Linked DNA regions of Homo sapiens: region 1 is linked to region 2. The links come from fine-mapping of genetic effects on gene expression. A gene starts in region 2. The other region holds a variant in brackets. All regions are shown on one strand. Distances are between the middles of the regions. Region 1 has its middle 3.2 kb from the start of KRTAP3-2. Region 2 holds the start of KRT23 (keratin 23).

Region 1 (4,397 bases), 65 kb before region 2:
ATAATAAAAAACAAGATATTTCATTTTTCCTTCAAATTGTTATTGAGGCCAGGCACAGCGACTCGTGCCTGTAATCCCAGCACTTTGGGAGGCTGAGGTGGGTCTACTGTGAGTCCATTAAACTTCTTTCCTTTATAAATTACCCAATCTCGGGTATGTCCCTATAGCAGCATGAGAACAGACTAATACAGTATGGATGTGTCTACATGTGAGTAAGTGGAAAACTACACTGACACCATTTTGAAACTACAACAGAAAGCAAGTTTGAATGCAGCAACACAACTAAATAAAACTGAAGGAGAGCTCATCCCCTGTCTGATACATAAGAAGTTAGTGAGTTATTTTTACAGAATTAGGTAAACAGCAACAAGGATGTTCCGTCCAACATTCTGATGGACAGAAGCCGTGTTCCCTGAGATAGGTGGATATAAAAGACCCATAGAGGACAACCTTGTAGAAGAAAGCCTTCCTTTGCCACAAAACATTGTCCTGGTCCACTGTCACTATGTCTTGCTGTGATTCCTATCTCCAAGGATGCTGCAGCGTCCCCACTGGCCTGGCCACCACTATCTGCCCCTCTGACATAAGCTGTCAATGTGAAGTCTGCCTACCCAGCACCTGTCCTCATGAGATCAGCCTCCTTCAGCCCACCTGCTGTGAACCTGGCCCCTGCCTGGCTGCATGCCTGACTCCTATGTGCCATCCTGTTGACTGCTCAACAAATGCCACCCAGCTCCAACCCTGAGCGGGCTCTCTGTCACCACCTGCATCCAGAGTGTGAACCACCTTGCTGCTAGCCAAAGAGCTTGCCCACATTACCCTGAGGACCTTCAGTAGTCATTAAGCGCTGCTCAGCAAATGGCCTTTAATGAGGCCATTTGGAAGAAAATATAGCACTGTGCCTTCAGTTTTACAGAAGTTTTCTTTTCCTGTTTTGAACAATGATTTCAAATGAGAAATGGGAAAAAAAATGCTACCATGGATCCCCTTACTTCAAAACTAAATAAACACCACTACTCCCCAAACCACATACTGCCTCAACATTTAATGCTATAATTACCCAACGACTCTTGACACATGCATCATGAACTTAAAAATACATCCAGCAGAATTACACTTTCTGATGACATCAACATAAATTTCATAGCCAAAAAGAGGCCTCACAGGCATACGTAGATACCTGAAGAAAACTGTGAGGATAGTGAAATGCATTAGGCTCTAAGCTTAGAATCGTTTTAAATGCCAAGGTCAGCATCTACCTTTGATTTTTATTTTTTCCCTGCCTCTAAATAAACTCACGTGTCCTTAAAGAGGCAGTGAAGCTAGCAATTTGAGATCAACATGCTCACAGAAAGGACCTCAAAGATTGAGCCAAGCCCATTTTTTTCGCTGTCTCATTTAGGTAAATCTTTGAATTTAAAAATGTTGGCCAGGCATGGTGGCTCACGCCTCTCTAATCCCAGCACTTTGGGAGGCTGAGGCGGGCGGATCACCTGAGGTCCGGAGTTCAAGACCAGCCTGACCAACATGGTGAAAGCCCGTCTCTACTAAAAATACAAAATTAGCCGGGCATGGTAGAGCATGAATGTAATCCCATCTATTCCTCAGGCTGAGGCAGGAGAATGGCTTGAACCCGGGAGGCAGAGGTTACTGTGAGCCAAGATCGTGCCATTGCACTCCAGCCTGGGCAACAAGAGCAAAACTCCATCTCAAAAAAAAAAAAAAGTTTTGACAACTGTAAAGCAATTCACACAAAAAATGAATCACTCTCTTTATATAAAGTGTTACTGTTATAAAAGGCCATTATAAAAATAAATAAATACCTTTTTAATTCTAATCTGAAATGTAATCCAATTCAACAAATATTTATCAAATGCCTACCCTGTTTCAGGCATTGTCCTAGGTGCTTGAAAAAGACAAATAAAACTAACATACGATTACCACTTCCAAGAACCTTGCATTGGAGTGAGGAAAACAAATTTAAGTGACAAACTACAAAATATAGCAGAAAGAAATGAGGTTGAAAGGGAAGAATAGGCAGCCCATTTTGTGAGAGCAGAGAAAAGGATGCAAACATCTAGAAGAATCACCTAGAGTTTCTTTATGAAGGGGATGTTTGGCTGAATCTTGAGGGATCAACAGGATTTGGAAACTAGAGAATTGGGAAAGGTCACTTTAAGCTAAAGAAACAGTATGAACGAGGTCACAGAGGGTAAAGTACCTAGGAGACTCCCGCCTTCACTTTATGTAATGTGCTGTATGATTAACATATGCGTGACTCACATAGTTATCATTTTTGTGATGAGAACACTTAATCCATTCTCTCAGCGTTTTTCAAAAATGCAATATATGGTTATTCACTATAGTCACCATGTTGTACAGTAGATCTCCTGAATCTATATAATATTTCAAAATCGATTTTAAAAGAGAAGTCAGAGAGAACACAGAGAATGGGAGAGGGTCTTCTTCATATATTCTACTTGCCAAGCCACTGGCTTCTAGATGAGAGAGACTGGTAAGTCAAGAGTAAGTAAACATTAAACATTTCCTTGACGATTTCAATACTAGTTCATTAACTTTGAATTTTATAATATACTGGGAAAGCCACTTGAATTTGCTT[A/C]TCTGTTCTTCAGTGGTAAAGTGCAGGTATTGAGGCAGGAGACTAGCAAAGGGAATTAAAACTTGGATAAAGGGTGGAGTGAATAAAAGCAGAGACCAGAAGCAAGGTGAAGGGGCAGGTAAGCAAGAAGCAAGATAAGAAGCAGAAGTTAGACCAGGCGCGGTGGCTCATGCTGTAATCCTGGCATTTTGGGAGGCCGAAGCAGGTGGATCACTTGAGATCAGGAGTTCAAGACCAGCCTGGCCAACATGGAGAAACACCCCTCTCTACAAAAAATACAAAACTTAGCTGGGTGTGGTGGCGGGCACCTGTAATCCCAGCTGCTACTTGGGAGTCTGAGGTAGGAGAATCACTTGATCCCAGAAAGTAGAGGCTGCAGTGAGCAGAGAATGCCACTGCACTCCAGCCAAAACAAAAAGTAAGATAGAGAAGAAAGCAAGGCCCCCATGGCCGGCAAGATAAGGACCAAACCAGTAAGGGGCAACTCTTCATGGATAAGCATGTGCATTAAAGAGAAAACGTATCCTTAACATGACCTTGTATGAAAATCAGCTCATTCAGGCTTATGCATATGGACTGCATATCATGTATGTACTTAAAATTATGGGCTGGAGGTGGTGCGCAAGCACACAGGGGCCAAAGTAACTAAGCAACACACCTGTCAATCAAAGAGGCAAACACTGGCTAGAGATTAGGCAGCCTTGGGAAGGGACACACACACACACATACACACACACACACACACACAAAGACGCAAACTGCACCAAGCTGGGGGCTGATCTCATCTCACAGAGGCTGGTTTGCTCTCCCCCTCTTAGAGTGTAATACTGTGCTTAATACACTTTTGTTTCTTTGTTTTGCTGTGGGTGTCTCGTCCAATTCTTTGGGACACCAAAAGCCTGGAACTGCATGGCACCATCTGGTAACAGTATGATGTTCGACACCCTTGGCATTTGTTGTAAATTCCTGCTAATAAAAATGATTTGAAGCTGTTTTCTGTTTTTTTGTTTTTAACTTTTAAGTTCAGGGGTACCTGTGCAGGTTTGTTACATAGGTAAGCTGGTGTCATGGGGGTTTGTTGTACAGATTATCTCATCACCCACGTATTAAGCCTAGTACCTACCAGTTATTTTTCCTGATCCTGTCCCTCCTCCCACCTTCCACCCTCTGATAGGTTCTAGCATCTGTTATTCCCCTCTATGTGTCCATGCGTTCTCATCATTTAGCTACCACTTATAAGTGAGAACATGCAGTATTCGGTTTTCTGTTTCTGCATTAGTTACTAAAGATAATAGCCTCCAGCTCCATCCATGTTTCTTCAAAGGATAGGAGCTCCTTATTTTTTATGGCTGCATAGTATTCTATGGCATATATGTACCACATATTTTTGTTGTTAAAGAAAAAGATAAACTGGTTGTTTTAACGTATAACGTATAAGGCTTACCTACCAATGACATTTGATATTTTCCACTGATTTTAGCCAGCTTTCTTCTCTTTTAAGTAGATCGTACTGGTTTTTGGTAATGTCCCCTCAGAAACAACCTACCCGGAATCTTTGCTTTCTGTTAAGTCAACAAATTGCCACATAACGAGTATGTAATTTAAATTATACAATATTATCTGAAAGGATTTGTGCTGATCATGGACAGGTGTAGGAAGATGTTGGAATCTAGAATATTACACATTTGATATTATCTAGTTCAATCTCTGGCTGACTTAAGTAAATAATGTTGTTTAAGGCATACCTCAAAGGAATTTCAATCTAGTTCAAGATCCA
Region 2 (4,397 bases):
AATTCTAGAAAAACTATGTCACTAAAGTGAATTCATTTTAGTTCCTTATTTGCCAATTAAAATGTGTTAATTGACTTAAGTTTTTCTAAAATGGAATAAGTCGCAGGAGCCCATTTTTCCAATTATTCTAGCCATTCTTTTGTCTTCCAATACATACACATAGTATCTGAAAGGATGTTCACCAAATGTCACCAAACGTTGTGTGTGTGTGGTAGAATTTTTAAATATTTTTTCCTGTACCATCATGTATCACTTGATTTTGTATAATAAGCATGTATCATTTCTTTTAATGCTTTTAAAATGATGCTTTTAAAAAAGCATCATTTCTTTTAAAATCCAATGGAACTCTACACATTAGAAGTTATGGAAAACCAGGGCCGGGTGCGGTGGCTCATGCCTATAATCCCAGCACTTTGGGAGGCCGAGGTGGGTGGATCACAAAGTCAGAAGTTCAAGATCTGCCTGGCCAACATGGTAAAACCCCGTCTCTACTAAAAACTACAAAGATTAGCCGGGCGTGGTGGCACGCACCTGTGGTCCCGGCTACTCGGGAGGCTGAGGCAGAAGAATCGCTTGAACCCGGGAGGTGGAGGTTGCAGTGAGCCACGATCACATCACTGCACTCCAGCCTGGGCGACAGGGCGAGACTCTGTCTCAAAAAAAAAAAAAAGAAGTTATGGAAAATTGGCTGGGCAGGGTGGCTCATGCCTGTAATCCCAGCACTTTGGGAGGCCAAGGCAGGCAGATCATGAGGTCAGGAGTTCAAGACCAGCCTGGCCAACATGGTGAAACCCCGTCTCTACTAAAAATACAAAAAATTAGCTGGGCATGGTGGTGCGCACCTGTAATCCTAGCTACTCGGGAGGCTGAGGCAGGAGAATCGCTTGAACCCAGGAGGCGGAGGTTGCAGTGAGTCAAGATTGCGCCATTGCACTCCAGCCTGGGTGACAGAGCAAAACTCCATCTTGAGAAAAAAAAAAAAAGAAGTTATGGGAAACCATCATATAACAGTACTAGAAGAGACTATTTCTCCCCAGTGCTCTCAGATCTCACCACCAGTTTTTCCTGGCCCTGGTCCTGCTATGACACAAGAAATCTTTTGCTCAAGGATAAGTCCTATAAATCAAAACTCCCACACATGGACATAAAATGAGACAGTGGCCAAATCTATGGGGTTGATAAGTCACTGCCACTCAGACATGCCTGAAATAATTAGAGAAGCATTAATTTCATTGTAGATTCTGGTGAGAGAATTTAGAAAAAGGCAGTGCAGCCCGGCCCTTGCACATGCTAAAGGTAAATGTTTTCTTCCTTGGTAAGTCTGGGTCCAGGCGAACAGGAACCAGAGCTGACCATAACTTTGATGACCAGGAACCGTCCACATCCACAGAACACTGGTTGCCACCACTCGCCAAACAAGTCTCTCTAGTTCCCTCATTTGCTCTATTTTTATCACTTGTCTCTTTTGTCTTTTTCTCATATCTGAGATGTAAGTGACTGTCGGCACTCTTTCTAAGCACTCTCCAAGCTTCCCTGAGGCTTGGAGGCTCATTTTTCCAGCTCGTGCACAGTGAAATAAAAAATATTCAGAGACTCTTCCCTGATAAGGTTTTGTTGTAAGACTGGGAGGAGCAGAGCTGGTGTGCTTTTGGGTGGCTTTATTTGTAATTGGAAAAGATTGGCCTTCATGGATGGTTAATCTATACCCAGGAGAGGCGTTTTCCTACTTTCTAGTTCTATAACTCACAGTCCTAAAAGGAGCAGAAGTTGATGGCATCAGGAGACCTGTGTTAAAATCCTGACTCTAAAAAGTTTATGATTGAGTCAACATACATTTGCAAAATACCACCAAGAAACCAGACTTTGGTGCTCAAAAATGGAAGACATAAACTCTGCTTTCAAGAAGCCTGCGGTCTCAGAAGGGTGTGGCAAATGCAGTATAATGGAGTGAAAGAACGGAGTGGACTTCATCCCAGGCACAGGAGGTGGCTGCGCCTGGCTAGGGGCTCCCAGCTTCCACCATGAGGTGGGATGCCAAGGTGTCTGCCCCTCTGGAGGACCTCGGCATCCAGAAGAGGCAGTTTCCTCCTAGAGGGTCACCCAACTCATGCAGGAGAATTCAGAAAATGATTGTTGAAGGAGGTAGCCCTTGAACTATAGAAGAGGTAGGGGTGAGTGACTTTCCAGGCAGGGAGGACAGCACAGACTCGGGCAGTGTCACCTATGAATTCATGTGCTCAATTACACTGTACATGCGAATCAGCTCTGGATCATTCATCCCTATGAGACCCTGATTCTTTGTCTGCAAAATGAAGACAACAACCCTTGCCTGGATACATAAAGAGTTGTGAGGATTCAATAAAGAATATAAAAGAGCTACACCAATTGGCAAGTCCTATTATTATGAAAGAGAAGTGTGGTACAGGACCTGTCAAGATTCAACCCAAGATAACAGTGCTATGTGGAGAAAGAATCTAGCCCTGGCTCTGCCACTAACCTCCCCACCACCATAGGCCTCAGCTTTCCTCATCTGTCCAATTAGTGGCTTGGAACCAGAAAGGCCAGAAGCCCTTCCTGCGCTGATATTTTATTTGTAAGTCCCCTTTAAATCCAACTGCCAGTAACTAGCACGTGGCTCCCGCCCCCAGACTGCTTCTTTATTCATTCCTAACCTTTACCTTGGCAGATGAAATATAAGATTCATCAACCACATTTGACAGCCCATGGCAGGTTTCCTGTTTTCCATCGTCCCTCTGCAGGTCACAGACACACAGAGCCCAGCCGTGGCAGGCTCAGCCGGGGTCCGGGGCTGCTAACAACGGCTACATTCCTCCCCCAGGGCCAAGGGAAATCCTGAGCGCAGGCCAGGGTTGTTTGGTTTTGAGGTGTGCTGGGATGAAAGGCACCCTGGAAGTGGAAGGTTCGGTCATTCATTAATTAATTACATCTATAATTGAGGGTTTGTTCTTAAGAGCGAGTCCTTTGAAAGTACTTTCCTTCAAACAGTGACTGCCACAAAGGCATCAGATATTCACCACCTTCTCGGCTGCCTCAGCACAGCAAGCTTTATTCTGGGACCTGAGATCCTGTTCTGAGCTGGCTTTCCCTTCTCCAGGCTCGCTCACCCTCCCTTTAGAGGTGGGGCTTATTGGGGGTGGAAAAAGGTGTGTGTATCTCTGTTGTTTAATGTCTGGTTTTTTGTTGCTGTTGTTGTTGTTTTGTTTTGGTTTTGGTTTTTGGTTTTTTTTAAGGAAATCTATACTACATCGAATATGCTTTCTTTTGGGTGGACTTTAACCTAACCCATTCCAGGTAAATGAACAATGGAAAAACTTCACGGCAAGATTAGAAAGATACCTGAGCCCAATACCCGCCTGATGTCGTGGGCCACACCTCCGGGTTACCAGGGGAAGGGAGGAAGCAAACTGTCATATTGATGTGGCTCTAAACAACAACAGTGTGCGAAGGCCCAGGGGCACTTTGGGATTGACCAAGAGGAAACACAAGTTGCACAATGATACAATCTTGTTGGTACAATTGTCAGAGAAGGGAACTCCCACAGCAAAGGCCATAAAACCATCCAGGGCAGTCTGGGGCGGCTCAGTTCTGCGGTGCCAGGGAGTGGAGCAGAGCTCAGCCCCGTCCCAAACACAGATGGGACCATGAACTCCGGACACAGCTTCAGCCAGACCCCCTCGGCCTCCTTCCATGGCGCCGGAGGTGGCTGGGGCCGGCCCAGGAGCTTCCCCAGGGCTCCCACCGTCCATGGCGGTGCGGGGGGAGCCCGCATCTCCCTGTCCTTCACCACGCGGAGCTGCCCACCCCCTGGAGGGTCTTGGGGTTCTGGAAGAAGCAGCCCCCTACTAGGCGGAAATGGGAAGGCCACCATGCAGAATCTCAACGACCGCCTGGCCTCCTACCTGGAGAAGGTTCGCGCCCTGGAGGAGGCCAACATGAAGCTGGAAAGCCGCATCCTGAAATGGCACCAGCAGAGAGATCCTGGCAGTAAGAAAGATTATTCCCAGTATGAGGAAAACATCACACACCTGCAGGAGCAGGTAAGATGCTGGGTGACCCTGGAGATCCAGATGGGGCTGCTTTGCCAGGGGACCCTCGGGAGGAAAAATGAGTCCAGAAGACAATTTCCAGGAAAATGGCATCAGCGCTTGAAGTAATTGTGCACAAAGGTTTTGGGGGATGTTTTCTTATTATATCTTAAATTTGGAGTGGGAAACGTCTGTTTTGTTTAATTAGTCTACTGTCCATGGATAATGTAGAAAAAGAAGGCAGCAAAAATGATAGAAGTGCTACAGACTGTTTCAAAAATGAGACTACTGATTTCTCACAGACCAAAAACATCTTTAAAATGTGAGGCAACCAGCTGCTGTTTAATGTCA

The links. PIP is the estimated chance that this variant, and not a neighbour inherited with it, causes the effect. A credible set is the group of variants that fine-mapping cannot tell apart.
Region 1: its variant is the best candidate, but not a certain one, in a credible set for the expression of KRT23 in whole blood (TOPMed, PIP 0.53).

The regions. Positions count from the first base shown.
Region 1 is chr17:41,000,869-41,005,265 of GRCh38, reverse strand. It overlaps the pseudogene KRTAP3-4P. Among named protein-coding and RNA genes, the nearest start is that of KRTAP3-2, 3.2 kb to the right of the region's middle. The variant A/C (reference allele first, on the strand shown) is at 2,621.
Region 2 is chr17:40,935,869-40,940,265 of GRCh38, reverse strand. KRT23 (keratin 23) reads left to right here and starts at 2,620. Exons shown (of 9, transcript NM_015515.5): 1 at 2,620-2,920; 2 at 3,313-4,058. The coding sequence starts at 3,663. All of the region lies in intron 1 of LOC107985072 (a long non-coding RNA gene), which reads right to left.